Linked DNA regions of Homo sapiens: region 1 is linked to region 2. Evidence: fine-mapped expression QTL. Tissue or cell type: unexposed skin. Region 2 holds a variant in brackets; the other region holds the start of a gene. All regions are shown on one strand. Distances are from middle to middle.

What was found. PIP is the estimated chance that this variant, and not a neighbour inherited with it, causes the effect.
Region 1: LAMTOR3 starts here. The variant in region 2 is fine-mapped to the expression of LAMTOR3 in unexposed skin (GTEx, PIP above 0.99).

What each region holds. Positions count from the first base shown.
Region 1 is chr4:99,889,881-99,897,882 of GRCh38, reverse strand. LAMTOR3 (late endosomal/lysosomal adaptor, MAPK and MTOR activator 3) reads left to right here and starts at 3,456. Exons shown (of 7, transcript NM_021970.4): 1 at 3,456-3,548; 2 at 3,883-3,928; 3 at 5,849-5,883. The coding sequence starts at 3,920. DNAJB14 (DnaJ heat shock protein family (Hsp40) member B14) reads left to right here. Exons shown (of 8, transcript NM_001031723.4): 8 at 1-1,635. RefSeq lists a silencer at 3,268-3,357.
Region 2 is chr4:99,974,537-99,982,538 of GRCh38, reverse strand. All of the region lies in intron 1 of H2AZ1-DT (H2AZ1 divergent transcript), which reads right to left. Among named protein-coding and RNA genes, the nearest start is that of H2AZ1-DT, 28 kb to the right of the region's middle. The variant A/G (reference allele first, on the strand shown) is at 4,059.

The DNA.
Region 1 (8,002 bases), 85 kb after region 2:
TCAGAGGACCAAATGGTTAAGAAGAGAATTTGTACATTTCTTGAGCTTCCCCATGTGAAGCTTGGGTTCAGTACTATCCTATTACTATCCATCTTCATAATGAGTGAAGCAAACTGAAAGGGAATTCATAATCTTTTTTCTTATCTGAACAGAAAAACTAATGAAAATCAACAATAAATCTTTATTTTAATTTTCATTCAACAGCTGAAAAACCATGTCTGTTGACCACATTGGACCATTGCCTAGTTAAAATCCATAAAATTCCCTATAAACCAATGAAAAGAAACTTGTCTGGCAATAATTTCCAACATTTTAAATTCTAATTTTTAGTTACAAAGAAAAAGGATAGAATGAGGCTTTTCAAGGAATTCTTGCTCATCCCTTCAATTATTTGGCAGGTAAAACAGTCCTAGAATTCAGCTTCCTTTTTGGTTTTATTACTATTAAATAGATACTTTCATATAAATGGAAACACTTTTCCTCAAAACATTAATTCAAAACATACTCCTTATATTAAGGATTATAGCACCATATTTTTTGTATATTCCCTATGTGTAACTTTTTCCTGTTGGTATGTGATATTTTTCATTTAATATGACTATCTGCTGGTGTTGGGGCCAATAGATTTGTGAATATTCTGTGGATGTGTCTATGTATAGGTGTATATATATATATATATATTTTTTTTTTTTTTTCCCAGCTAATTACCTCAAATGTGTGATTGTTTAATATATACCACACTATGTTTGCACAGAGCAGGGCTTCCATTAGCAGTGGATATTTTTATGTCTGACTTTGAAAATCAGTCAACACAATTTCATTGGTGTGAATTATTTGTTGCTCTTTTTCATATTTTAATGGAGAGATTCCTATTATAAGGCCCATGCTTCAAACATAATTATATCTTTCTATATCCAGCCATCTGGAAATACATAGGGGTAAGAAGTATTTCTTGAAATGTCCTTGTTTAGTAAGTTAGTAAAAACTGGGATGACTAGTTGCCAAGATGTCTTGTAACTGCATAGCAGATGACACCTGGCATGGCAAGTCTCATTCACTTCAGCACAACACTCTGTACATTTCAGTCTGATATTCTACTTTGCCATTTAAGGACACCATTAAAATCATAGAGATTTTCAGTGACATTGGAGTATTGTAATTATTACTTTCAAAAAATTATTTTTAATAGGATGATTAAACCAATGAGAAGAAACACACATAAATGATATTTTGCAGTTTATCTGTATTAAGAAATGCTTCTTGCCAATTTCTAGTTTTAGTTTTTGGATTGCTACATAAGACTTTCTTTCCATTTACTTTATGTGTTTTTAAAAGCTGCAGGTAATTTTTAAGGTTTGATGGAATTATAATGGAAGCCTTGTATAAGTTAAATGAAATTGGTAAAGGAGAGCTTACTTTGTCTATAATGCATTCAGGATTAAAAATTAGATTTCAAAATGAAATGTCTGATTTGTAAAATATTTAATGTTATATCAGACTTACATAAAATTTTCTGTGAGAACTCAAATGCATTTGATTTTTAATGAATGTTCTGAATGAAATATGAATTTTTGTCTTTCAGTCTCTGTAGTTTATCTCAATATATTAATAAAAAGGTCTGTTCTCACTGTAAAATGTTTGTTTTTATCATGTTTTATACTCAATATGGCCACTCTTTCATTCATTCAACTATTCAACAAGTATGTCAATGCTTGCTATATCCCAGGCAGTGAGCTGGGTGCTGGGAATTAATCACTGAATAAGAAAGACAAAAACCTTAAAGAGTTTACATCTAGCAAAGAAAATAAATATCAAGTAAATAATTATAATTATGATAAATTCTACAAAGAAAATTACAGGGTACAATGAAAGCATTTATCTAGAAGACCTAAACTATTCAGTGAGGGTCAGGGAAGGCTTCTCTGAGAGTGAGTTTAAGCCAAAATGCAAAAGATGAGATTAGTAGGATTAAGGTATGCTAGAGAAATATCTCAGGCAGAACGTGCTAAGTTGGTAAAGTGATAAAAATCTTTATGGAAGTGAAAACAAACTTGTATGATCATAGCATAAGGAATCCAGGGTAGGTGAGAGAATTAAGATAGGGGCCAGATCCCCATAAGAATGATATATAAACCATGATGCTGATATTGAACTTTATCCTAAGTCAATAAACTTGATTTTCAAGGAAGGAGTTAAATGATGTGATTTGGGTCTTTAGAACATCATTTTTGTTGCTGTGTGGAGACTGGAGGGCAAAAGAGAATGTAAGAAGAATAGGAGGTTGTTGTCAAAAGAGAGATGATCATGGCTTGGAGTAGGGTAGGAATATAGATAGGTGAATAGTTTTCAAAGATAGGAGGTAGAATCAACAGAACTCTGATTAGATTTGTGACATATGGAAGCAGCAATTGAAAACCAGGCTAAAGTTTTCTGAAAATTTGGCTATGAAAGGGAGTAGAGGAAAAACAGTGTGGTAGCTGAAAGAGGATGCGATTTCTAAAGAAGCTTTTCTTTTGAGGGTCTCGCTCTGTCACACAAGCTGGAGTTCAGTGGGGCGATCACCACTCGATGCAGCCTCAAACCCTGGGCTCAAGGGATCCTCCTGCCTCAGCCTCCCGAGTACCTGGTGCACGCCACGTTCGGATAATTCTTAATTATTATTATTATTTGTAGAGATGGGGTCCTATCTTGCCAGGCTGCTGTGGAACTCCTGGGCTCAAAGGATCGTCCCGCCTCGGACTCCCAAAGTGCTGCGACTACAGGCGTCAGCCACCGCACCCGGAAAGCCTTTTATTTTTTTCAATTATTATTTATTACATGAGACCTTACTAATTTTTAAAAATTCTGATGTAAAAGGGAACATAGAAGGTGCCCGTAATCAGTGTCTGCATGTTAAAAGTAGACGCTTGAAGTGCTCCAGAAAACCCATGGCTCCTCCCCATTCAATCTAGGTAAGGCCTTCAGTAAAGAGCACCCATGGGGAAGTCACAAGAGCCTAGGAAACAGGTCAGAAACCTGTGGACCTGGTACTTCCAATCACAGGCAATCTGGTGCTTGCTCTTCAGCTCATCACACCATCCCCTCAAATTTCTTCATCTACAAGAAAAGGTTTTAAGATAACAGACCCTGCAAAACTAATGACATTTATACACCCTCTCTGCACAAGAATGTCTTGTAACACATAACCTTGCTTGCATTTTCTGGGTTCCTTAGGGTCCAGCGATCTCGTACAAATCTACCCCACAGCTGACTTCCTTCGGCCCGTGACACAAGGCGCAGGCGCAAGACGCGGCCCGCGGTGGGCGGGGGAGGGGCGGGGCGCGTGCGGGGCGGGGGGGAGGGGAGGGGCGCGGCCGCCGGACGCGCCCTCGCAGCTTCCGCCGGGCCCCTCCGGAAATCCCGTATCGTAGGGCGACGGCGGCTTAGAAAGTGCTTCCTGGAGCGCAGACGAGGTCATGAATCATGTGACGGTGGCTTGAGGAGGAACCTGTCTTTAAAGCTGTCCCTGAAGTGACAGCGGAGAGAACCAGGCAGCCCAGAAACCCCAGGTAACTGGCGCTACTTTGCCTGGTTTTGAGGCCTAGTCCCGCAGGTGGCGCGGGTGGTGAGATTAAACAGAAGGAGAGGACCCTCTCTTCTTTTCTTTGGGCCTAGCTCTTTGGGGTGGAGGGGCAGGGATGGGGTGGGCTGAGGTAAGGTGTGCCAGCTGAGTACCTGTGGGGGTGCTGGGGCACTCCGACTCCCACTGGGCTCGCTGGGCCAAGCCCTAGAACCGCGGGGGTTTTACCTGGTTCTGACCAGGGCTGATCTCGCGTATTAAGTTGTGGGTGGGGAGGACGAGGAAGCCAAAGAGGGAAGAGTCACCGGGAGTTTCTCTTCCAGGCGTGGAGATTGATCCTGCGAGAGAAGGGGGTTCATCATGGCGGATGTGAGTGACACCCCTACATAAGAGGAAGGGGAGAGTGGGGAATTTTGAGGGGCATACTGAGCGGGGAGAGGTAGAACTTCCCAAACAGAAATTTGTTTTGATCCTCCCAGCCCCACCCATCCCAGTTAATTATTTTCTCTGATATCTGAAGTGGGAGACTAATATGAATGAATTTGCAGGATCCTGAGTTTCTGCCTCGAATGGGGGTGTAGGACACTAAGGTGCTTGAGACTGAGAAAATTAGGTTCTCCCTACTCCCCAGTCCAGCTGGGGCATAAGAGAGGCTCTGTATATTTACCATTTGAAATTCTGAATGATGGTTTGCTGCTTTTCCTGTCAGAATTTGGTCAGTAGGACATGTACCCACAATACTTTTTTCCAGTAAGTGATAACAATATCTCATTTGGTTTATTGTAGCAATTTACGATGATTTCTAACCCATGCCTCTTTAGAAACATGGTAACGTGTGTGTGTGTGTGTGTAGGAGGATAAAATGATCAGTCGGGTTTGGAGAATAGTAAGTGCTGGATGCTCAAAACAAGAGATACCTGATTAATCCATGTGAGGTCAAAATTGATACCTAAATTGTCAGTGAAATTCCTGGGATAAGAGAGTGTAATGAGACAAAATAAGATAGTCTTCTGGCCAATGCGGTTGCTTAGTCTGTAATCTCAGCACTTTGGGAGGCCGAGATGGAAGGATCACTTGAGGCCGGGAGTTCAAGATCAGCCTGGGCAACATAGCAAGACCCCGTTCTACAAAAAGAAATTTAAAAATCAGCCAGGCGCATTGATACCTCTGTAGTCACAGCTATGCTGGAAGTGAGGCGAGACGATTGCTTGAGCCCAGAAGTTGGAAGTTGCAGTGAGCCCCAGCTTAGAAAAATAAAATAGTCTTCTACTTCTTTAGTCTTAACTGTGTTTCGTGTTAAACACTTGACACACATTGTCATTTATTTTATATTCTGTAACACTGGGCTGGGCGCGGTGGCTCACGTCTGTAATCCCAGCACTTTGGGAGGCCAAGGCGGGTGGATCACCTGAGGTCAGGAGTTCGAGACCAGCCTGGCCAACATGGTAAAACGTTGTCTTTTCTAAAAATACAAAAAATTAGCTGGGCATGGTGGCAGGTGCTTGTAATCCCAGCTACTCGGGAGGTTGAGGCAGGAGAATCGTTTGAACCTGGGAGGCAGAGGTCGCAGTGAGCCGAGATCGCGCCATTGCACTCCAGCCTGGACAACAAGAGCGAAACTCCGTCTCAAAAAAAAAAAAAAATGTTGCCTCACATAGTCATATAGAATTTATTTTAGGTCCTTAAACAAAATATTTTAAAAATTACGTTATAATAATATGCCTTACACTGTTTCATTATTTGTTGAGTAGGTGAGTTCAACAAATAATGAAACAATGGAAGGCATATTTTTATAATGTGATAGTCACGTGAGACAACAGTCTTACAGAGGTCATATCACCTTACCCAAGACCATTAAGATGATGGTGGAAAGTCTATCTTTGAACATGGAAAGGTGTTTATAACGTCTTCTCAAGTGAACACAATAGCAACAGGATGTAAAACACTAGTATGAAAATTATGATGTAATTTTATGGCTAAAATGTGTTTCCCATTTCTAGGTATGCTAATCCATGCATCTTCTCAATAAACTTTTAACAACACTTTTATGATGTAGGTTCTATATTAGCCCTATTCAACAAATAATGAAATAAGCTTAGCGAAAAAAGGTTGGTTAACTTACTCCAAGTTGCGTGACTAGTAAACATCCAAATCAGACAGAGAAAGATAAAACACAGCAAGAAAGGTTATGAATGATAACTGAAGTTCCTTAAAATTTGGATAGGACAGGATCTAGAAAACAGTGGAAGGCCTATTATTACAACATTATTTTTTAATGCTCTCTTTCAGGACCTAAAGCGATTCTTGTATAAAAAGTTACCAAGGTAAGAAATTTTTAATTTGTTATTGAATAAATTCTATATGCCATATGTTAATTTTATGAAGCATTTTGTCTGTATTTTCCATGTTGTGAAGTATCTCTGAGATTTCCTTTAATATGAATATTTTTTGCCAGCCTCACGTCCTCTGGAAAATTTTCGTCACAACCGCTTTCCTCATTTATGTCAATAAGTTTGCCTTCACTGAGTTCTCTGTGTATCTAGAGCGATAGTGTCAGCATTCCCTTGGTCATCTGTTTCTTCTATAATTCTTTACTTTCTATTTGAAATTCAGCATTTCTATTTGAAATTTCAGCATTATTACTTTTCATTTCTTTGCTGTATTTCGTCTTTGTTGGCCAGTTTCCTCTTTTTATTATCTCTTTTTCTAAATGTCACATACTTTATCATTGGGAGACAAGGAGGTACAAAACTACATGCTTTGCTATCTCTGCATGAGCTGCATAACAGATGCACAGTGACCAACCATCAACATACTTTGAAAGAAATGATGTGGCTGGTTACTGATGACAGTGTGCATCTGTTAATTACATAATTATTTATGTAGTGATTTGTGGACTAAAGAGTTAGAAAAGTTTATACTTTACGTAGTTATTGAGGTATTATGCCATGCTAACTAAAATTTGACCTGTGCTCTTCTGCAGGGAGTGGTATTACTTAACCATAGTAACTAAAATGTGCATATTGGAACTATGCAAAATGAGGGCTTTCTGTGTTTTTCTGTAGTTACCTTAGCGTAATGAAAGGGCGCTCAAATTGGGACGGAGAGATACCCCACTACGCTGGTGATATGATGAAATAGTTAATAGTACATAGTTAATTCACTTAGAAGTCTTAGTGATTTACAGTCCTCTTTTGAGTGTTAGCATCTCTTATTGAAGAAACAGCAAAATTGCATTCAATGTTCTTAAGTTATAAACCGACCAGAAAGATACTCATTAGTCACCTGGAGATCTAATAAAGCAATAATTGATTCTAATTACATCATCTGTGATTATAAGCAATAAAAATGTTTCAGACAATGGGGATCTCATTTTAACTATTAAGTGTGCTCTCAAAATCATAATAGCGTGTGACACTGGATATGATGAAGCTGTCTGTGTAAAGGAATTAGAGAATAATACCAAAAGTATTTATTATATTACTGAGTAGTTCTAATGTTGATCAAAAATAGTTGGAAAGTAAATGCTTGCTTCTTCTTTGAATTTAGATGTCTCTTATCTTTTAACAAAAGGGGAAATATCAGGTTGTTGTGCTTATCCAAGAAATAAATTCAGTTAAAGGATATTTGTTAAAAGCTTTATGAAAATCTTTCATAATGGCAGGAAAGGTATTAGTACTGTCAGTTTTTTTTTTAATAATGAAAAAAAGCCAGTTCAACTCATTATATCATTTATTGAAAATAGGCTTATTGCATCCCAGAACAGTAATAATGAAGAAATAATAATGTTTTGAACATTTATGAAGAATAGTAGAATATACGCTTTGATTTGTTGCTAGATGTATGGGTTTGGATGCAGGCATCCTGCTTCAGAGCCATGGATTCATGCTTTTAACTGTTGTACCTCAGTGCCTCTCAGTAACAAAGTCAGCCAGCTACGGATACTAATGGAATGTGTGTTTTTGTGCGTTTTTTGAATTCTCTGCAAAATATCGTTCTTGTATTTGCAATTTAAAATCTGGTTGTGACCCAAAGCAGTCTCAGGCTTTAATAATCCCACTTTGTATGTTTTAAAACAACCAAATATTTCATAATTATGTGTATAAAACTAAATCCGATGTCTTTGATTAGTAATGCAACATTTGTTTTTAGAAAAAAATGGTTGTTTTAGTAAGCTTAAGGTTTAGATTTCTTCAGAATATTTCACAAAATTTAATTCATTTCTTCTAAAAGTGTAGTATCTCTTAATGAGCCAGTTATTTTTAATTATTAGTAAATTCTATTTATATTACTCTTTGCGCATTGTATGTAGAATTGAAAACAGCTTTTATATTTGTGACCTGATTTCTAAAATTATATACTTAAGAGTGTAAGTAATTTTTCTACTTTCTTGATTCATTTCTCTGTGAAGTCCATCAAAAAGAAAGTCCTTTTATTTTCTTT
Region 2 (8,002 bases):
TTCTCAGAGGCTTAGAAACAAAAGTTGGAGTCTGGTTCAAATTGAAGGCTGATTCCAGACTGGCATAGTGCTGTGACATACATGTATTATTTTTATTAAAATATAATAAAACTCAGCTTTCTCTTTCCCATCCCCTCCCCTTCACTTGCCCTTTCCCTCCATTTCCCTTTCTTTTTTTGAGCAATTCAGTCTTAAAAACATTAGGTGGAGCAGAGCCAGACAGGAATCAACAAAGGGACTGACTTGCATGAGGTGTCAAACCCAGGAAGAATGAGAAAGGCAACCACATTGGCAGGTGGTGTCAATGGGAGAAGGGTGAGGAGGGCATCCACACAGGAAAAGGGAGCTAGAATGAGATGTCAGCTCCCAAGTGGTGTGAGAAAGGCCCCCACACAGAGGGAGCCTGGCATGGGGACTTGGAGCCCAAAAGAGTGAGGATGACACACTTGAGTGACAGTAACCTGGCATCACGTGTCAGACCCAGAGTCACATGAGGAGGGCTTTCAAATGGGTGCAATGGAGAGGGGAGAGACTTGGCTCAGGATGTGAAAGCTTATGCAGGGTAAGGAAGGTCCTTACACAAAGGAGATATGTGGTATGGGATATCAGGGCCCGAAGAGAGTGAGGAGGGCATCTACCTGGGGAGGCAGTCCTGCAGTGAATCAGAGCCTGAGGAGGGTATCCATGCATGGGGGCAACTTATGGGTTTCAAAGCTGGAGTGGATTAAGGGGGAGTCCATATAGGAAGAAGACCCCGTTTGGGGTGTCAGAGTTCAAGGAGGATAAAGAAGTCATCCATGCAAGGAAAGTAGCCTGATGTGGTATATAAGCCTGACCAAGGAAGATGCACATTTGGTGGGAAGGAGGTAACCCTGTCTCAGGAGGGCGAGGGGAGGTGGGGGGCTTCTACTTGGGAGAGGCAGAGCAGCAGATTGATAAAATAAACACAAAAAGGAGAAAACTAGGTTGGATTCTCTGGTGTTGGATTGGAATTGAAGGTGCCAATGTAACTCATGGATTTCTATTTTTTTCTTTTTGAGACAGAGTCTCGCTCTGTCGCCCAGGCTGGAGTGCAGTGGCACGATCTCGGCTCACTGCGAGCTCCACCTCCCAGGTTCATGCCATTCTCCTGCCTCAGCCTCCCAAGTAGCTAGGACTACAGGCGCCCTCCACCACACCTGGCTAATTTTTTGTATTTTTAGTCGAGACAGGGTTTCACCATGTTAGCTAGGATGGTCTCGATCTCCTGACCTTGTGATCTCCCCGCCTCGGCCTCCCAAAGTGCTGGGATTACAGGTGTGAGCCACCACACCTGGCCATGGATTTCAATATTTAGAGATAGATGTAGAAATTAATGCAGTTTTAAATATGTACATGTGTATTTACACGTATGTGTGTGCACATATGTATGTGTCCACATACATATACTTCCTACATCTAACCACTGACAGGGCCTTGGAGCACTGACCACCCCATCCACACACCCCACCTGCGGTAGGAATCAGCACACCAAGCACCCAGATCATGGCTTAAAAATCAGTGTCCACTAAAAGGAGCCAAGTCTTCCTTGAAGAAGTGACTGATTTCAGGGATGGGCTTGACGAAGTACTAGATGGGCCTGAAATATCTTGTCTTCAAAAGCAAGGAAGTGCCTTAGAAAAATAGGGACATGTAAAGCACATGGGCATCAGCTTGAAAGAGCTCCTACTGGTCAAATCTGGGGCCCTTAAGCCTGGTAGTAACAGTAGTAAAAATTTATTATGCATGGCTTCAATTTATATAAATAAATGAATACATAGAAAATTTGATGAGAAATAGAGTGTGGAGCAAAGTTTCAAAGTATCTCTCCACAAAATACTTAGAAATTACAAAAAAAAAAAAAAAGAATAATTCACAATGGAGAAAGCTGGCAGACTATACCTTAAGTGATTCAAGTTAATAGCCTCAATAGTGGGACAAATTTAAATTATTAGCGACCTGATAGAATGAAATTCTGTGATATTCCTGCCATAGATGCAAAATCTGAATATAACCATAAAGAAACATCAGACAAATCCTATTTAAAAACATTTTACAAAATAAGTGTCCTGTAATTTTGTTTTAAATGGTGAAGGTCATGAAATTCAAAGAAAGGCTGAGGAATAATTCCAAATTGAAGAGACAAAAAAAGACAAATACAACACACAATTCTGAAATAGATCCTTTTGCAATAAAGGACATTATTGGGACAAATGGAGAAATGTAAATGGGGTCTGTGAACTTGATATGGATTTGATGCTTGTAATGTAGAAATGATAATCTCTTTATTATAGTGGTTATACTATGGTTTATGTAGGAAGAATGTCTTTGTTTGTAAAGAATATACCTCAAAGTATTTGAGGGTGATGAGTCAGCCACTTACTGTCTAATGATTTAGGAAAATAACATTCTTTGCATTGTACTTGTAATTTTTCTGTACATTTGACAGTATTTCAAAATTTAAAAAAAGTTTTTAAAAATAACCTCTTTTATGACTCATGTCATTTTCTCAGTAAGTTCTTCTCTGACAATCCCTTTAAAACTGCAACCTCTGCCCAGCACTCCCATTCCTTTATCCTAATTTATTTTCCTCATAGTATTTATCCTCATGCATTCCACATAATTTACTGATATATTTGCTCTCTACACCCCCACCCCCACTCCATTCCATTTCTAGAATGTAAGCTCCTTGAAGGTAGGATGCTTTGCTTTTGTTCATTGTTGTAAATCAATGTGTAGAACAGTGGCTGGCATATGATATGTACTCAAATAGTCATTAAGTTACTGAATATAATTGGTTGTTCAGGGACAGGTTCTATTTTTGCTCTATAAACTGATAGCTCTTTGTTCATCAAAAGCCCAGAAGGCTATTGAGTTTCACTGTTTAAGTCTAAGTATGTTAAACAAGGTAGAGAGTTAGGGATTTTTAGAACTCAATTAATTCCTTCATCCTAACTTCTAATTAAAAAAAATCCAAAAGTAAGTATATGAATGGGTATCAATGAAGTAACAAAATAGATCTCACAAGTTAGCAATAAAATACATTGCCATGCTTTGCATGTATATATATGTGTGGGGGAGGTTGATTTAAAATCATCTATATCTTGTTTATATTGAGATTCTGCCACAGAGTTGTCAATAAAAACTTCCTGAATATTAATTATTTCTTAATATTCAACAGACTACTCCTTGCTAAATCAATATTTTGCTCTTATAATGATTCATGAGTTTCACTTGTATTGAAAATGGCGGTTGTAAATATTTTTGAGTCATAGAAATTTGGCATTATTATGTACATTTAAGACTATTTTAAGTAAAGTTTTTCTAAAAAATGTTATTTAATTACAAATTAACATCAACAATTTATGGTATCTTTATATCTTATTGGTAGGCAGGTATGTGTGTTCAATTTATGATTTCAAATATCTGTGATCTTTTAAGGTATCTGCCTTTTCCTTCTATCATTAGAATCTAACAAACTAGAGATTTGGCTTTGTTTCTTACGACCTAAAAATATACTTCTTTGTTTAGAAATAGAACTATTTGTTGACAGCATCACATATCTACAAGGCAATTCTGAAACAAGGGCAATGTAATAGTTTCTTGCATAACAACAACAACAAAACGCCCCCCAAAATCCCAGTAGTGCCTAAAGTGAACATTTCTGTTTTTGTGTGTGTGTTTCATTTGTGGTTCTGAAAATACTCATAAATTAGCATGATAATCACCAAGTTGTACATGGTGGCTGAGGAACAATTTTCAATATTACATAACTGAATATATAAATCTAGATATAGCATCAGTTGACTGTGCTATCAGTTTTTTACATTAGTATACAGATTAGATCTTACTTAAAAGACTATAAATTACAACATAAGTGATAGCAATGAAATTTTAAATGTTTTGTAAAATCTCATGGGGTAATATTAGTTTATCATATGCAAACCAATGCTCAAACATGATATGTAAAATTCATGGTCCATTACTAAATCAAGTATTGCTTTAAGAATTTCATTAAAAATTCCAGATGTTATTGTTTC[A/G]GCAGAGTGATAGTTTGGCCAATTAAAATTAATTTTAAAATCTATCAAAAAGTTTTAATAAATCAAGCAATGTCCTCTCATTTAGCATGCTGTCAATACAAATTAAATGAAAATATTGATTATAACATAATTAGCAATTTTTCTAAAATGAAGAAAAAAATGCTTATGAAATAAATATATAATAATGTATTCATTATATATATCTTTGCTTTATACCATTCAAACATCACTGGCCTATCACTAGAAGGCCAGACATGCCAAGCATAATTAAAATAAATCATCTTTTACATTTACTAACTTGCAGCTATTTAAATGTAACATAGTTCTTCACATTTAAAAATGTTATAAATATAATTTTGTCAATGTAGGATGATAAAACATTTTACTCAATAATTTGTTAACTTTAAACATGTAAATATTGAGGAATATAGTATGTATGCCTCCACAAATGCTAGGGCTAATTTGGTTTTTGTTTGGTTTTGTCTGTTTCTGAACTTTTATTTGAAGCTCAGGGGTACATGTGCAGGTTTGTTCCATTGGTAATCTCATGTCATGGGTGTTTGTTGTACAGATTATTTGGCCATCCAGGTACAAAGCCTAGTAGCCAATAGTTATTTTTTCTGATCCTTTCCCTCCTCCCACCCTCCACCCTCAGGAACGCCCCAGAATGTGTTGTTCCTCTCTTTGTGTCTCATTTAGCTCCTACTTATAAGTAAGAACATGTGGTCTTTGGTTTTCTCTTCCTGCAATAGTTTGGTAAGGATAATGGCCTCCAGCTCTGTCCATCTGCTTCCAAAGGACATGATCTCATTATTTTTCATAGCTGCATGGTATTCCGTGGTGTATATGTACTACATTTTCTTTATCCAGTCTACCATTGATGTGCATTTAGGTTGATTCCATGTCTTTACTATCATGAACAGTGCTGCGATGAACATACATGTGCATGTGCCTTTATGATAGAACAATTTATATTCCTTTGGGTATATACTCAGTAACAGAATTTCTGGGTCAAATAGTAGTTCTGTTTCTAGCTCTTTGAGGAATTGCCACACTGCTTTCCACAATGGTTGAACTAACTTACACTCCCAGTAACAGTGTATAAGTGTTCCCTTCTCTCCACAACCTTGCCAGCATCTGTTATTTTTTTAAATGACTATTTAATAATAGCCATTCTGACTGGTGTGAGATGGTATCTCATTGTGATTTTGATTTGCATTTCTCTAATGATCAGTGATATTGAGCTTTTATTTCACATGCTTGTTGGCCCTATATATGTCTTCTTTTGAAAAGCATCTGTTTATGTCTTTTGCCTACTTTTTAAAGGGGTTGTTTGGTTTTTTGTTGTAAATTTGTTTAAGTTCCTTGTAAATACTGGTTATTAGAACTTGTCAGATGCATAGTTTGCAAATATGTTCTCCCATTCTGTAAGCTGTCTGTTTGCTCTGTTGATAATTTATTTTGTTGTGCAGAAGCTCTTTAATCAGATCCTATTTGTCAATTTTTGTTTTTGCTGTCATTGTTTTTGGCATCTTCGTCATGAAATATTTGCCAGTTCCTATGTCCAGAATGGTATTGCCTGGGCTATTTTCCAGGATTGTTATAGTTTTGGGTTTTACATATAAGTTCTGAATCCATTGTGATTTGATTTTGCGTGTGGTGTAAGAAAGGGTCCCACTTTCAGTCTTCTGCATATGGCTACCCAGTTATCCCAACACCATTTGTTGAATAGGGAGTACTTTCCTTATTGCTTACTTTTGTCAGCCTTGTCGAATATCAGATGGTTGTAGGTGTGCTGCTTTATTTCTGGGCTCTTGATTCTGTTCCCTTGGTCTATGCATCTGCTTTCGTACCAGTACCATGGTGTTCTGGTTACTGTAGCCCTATAGTATAGTTTGAATTCGATTAGTGTGATGTCTCCTGCTTTGTTATTTTTGCTTAGAATTGCCTTGGTTATTCAAGCTCTTTTTTTGGTTCCATATTATTATTATTATTTTTTTTTTGAGATGGAGTCTTGCTCTGTCACCAGGCTGGAGTCCAGTGGAATGATCTCTGCTCACTGCAACCTCTGCCTCCTGGGTTCAAGCGATTCTCCTGCCTCAGCACCCACCCCCACCCCCAACCCCGAGTAGCTGGGACTACAGGCATGTGCCACCAGACCCAGCTAATTTTTGTATTTTTAGTGGAGACGGGGTTTCACCATGTTGGCCATGATGGTCTTGATCTCTTGACCTCGTGATCCACCCTCCTCAGCCTTCCAAAGTGCTGGGATTACAGGCGTGAGCCACCGCACCTGGCTTCCACATGAATTTTAAAATTGTTTTTTCTATTTCCGTGAAGAATTTCATTGGTAGTTTGATAGGAATAGCGTTGAATCTGTAAATTGCTTTGGGCAGCATGGCCATTTTAAAGATATTGATTCTTACTATCCATGAGCATGGAATGTTTTTTCCATTTTTTGTGTCATCTCTGATTTCTTTGAGTAGTGTTTTGTAGCTTTCATTTTAGATATCTTTCACCTCCCTGGTGAGCTGTATTCCTAGGTATTTTATTCTTTTTGTGGCAACTGGGAATGGGACTTGGCTCTCAGCTTGGTTGTTTTGATGTATAGGAATGCTAGTGATTTTTGTGTGTTGATTTTGTATCCTGAAAATTTGCTGATGTTGTTTATCAGCTGAAGAAGGTTTGGGGAGGAGACTATGGGATTTTCTAGATGTAGGATTATGCCATCTGCAAACAGGGATAGATTGACTTCCTCTCTTCCTATTTGGATGCCCTTTATTTCTTGCTCTTGCCTGATTGCCCTGGCCAGAACTTCCAATACTGCATTGAATAGGTGTGGTGAGAGAGAACATCCTTGTCTTGTGCCAGTTTTCAAGGGGAATGCTTCCAGCTTTTGCCCATTCAGTATGATGTTGGCTGTGGGTTTGTCATAGATGGCTCTTATTATTTTGAGGTGTATTCCTTCAATGCCTAGTTTATTGAGAGTTTTTAACATGAAGGGTGTTAAATTTTATTGAAAGCATTTTCTGCATCTATAGAGGTGATCATGTGGTTTTGCCTTTAGTTCTGTTTATGTGATGAATCATGTTTATTGATGTCCATATGTCAAACCAACCTTGCATCCCAGGGATAAAGCCTACTTGATTGTGGTGGATTAGCTTTTTAATAAGCTGCAGGATTCAGTTTGTTAGTATTTTTTTGAGGATTTTTGCATCAATTTTCATTGAGAATATTGGCCTGAGGCCTTGTTGTTGTTATTGTATCTCCGCCAGGTTTTGGTATCAGGATGATACTGGTCTCACAGAATGAGTTGGGGAGGAGTTTATCCTCCTCAATTTTTTCGAATCATTTCAGTAGGAATGGTACCAGCTCTTCTTTGTATATCTGGTAGAGTTTGAATGTGACTCCATCTGGTCTTGGGGTTTTCTTGGTTGTTAGGCTATTTATTACTGATTTAATTTCAGAGCTCATTATTGGTCTATTTAGGGAATCAATTTCTTCCCAGTTCAGTCTTAGGAGGGTATATGTGTCCATGAATTTATTCATTTCTTCTAGGTTTTCTAGTTTGTGTGTATAGAGGTATACATGGTAGTCTCTGATGGTCATTTGCATTTTGGTGGTGTCAGTGGTAATATCCCCTTTGTCATTTCTAATTGTGTTTATTTGGATCTTCTGTTTTCTTCTTTATTAGCCTGGCTAGCAATATATTTATCTTATTAATTTTTTCATAGAAACAACCCCTGGGTTCATTGATCTTTTGAATGGCTTTTTGTGTCTCAGTCTCCTCCAGTTCAGCTGTGATTTTGGTTATTTCTTGTCTCCCACTAGCTTTAGGGTTGGTGTGCTGTTGCTTCTCTAGTTCTTTTAGTTGTAATGTAGTTTGTTAATTTGAAATCTTTCTAACTTTTTTATGTGGGCATTTAGTGCTATTCATTTCCATC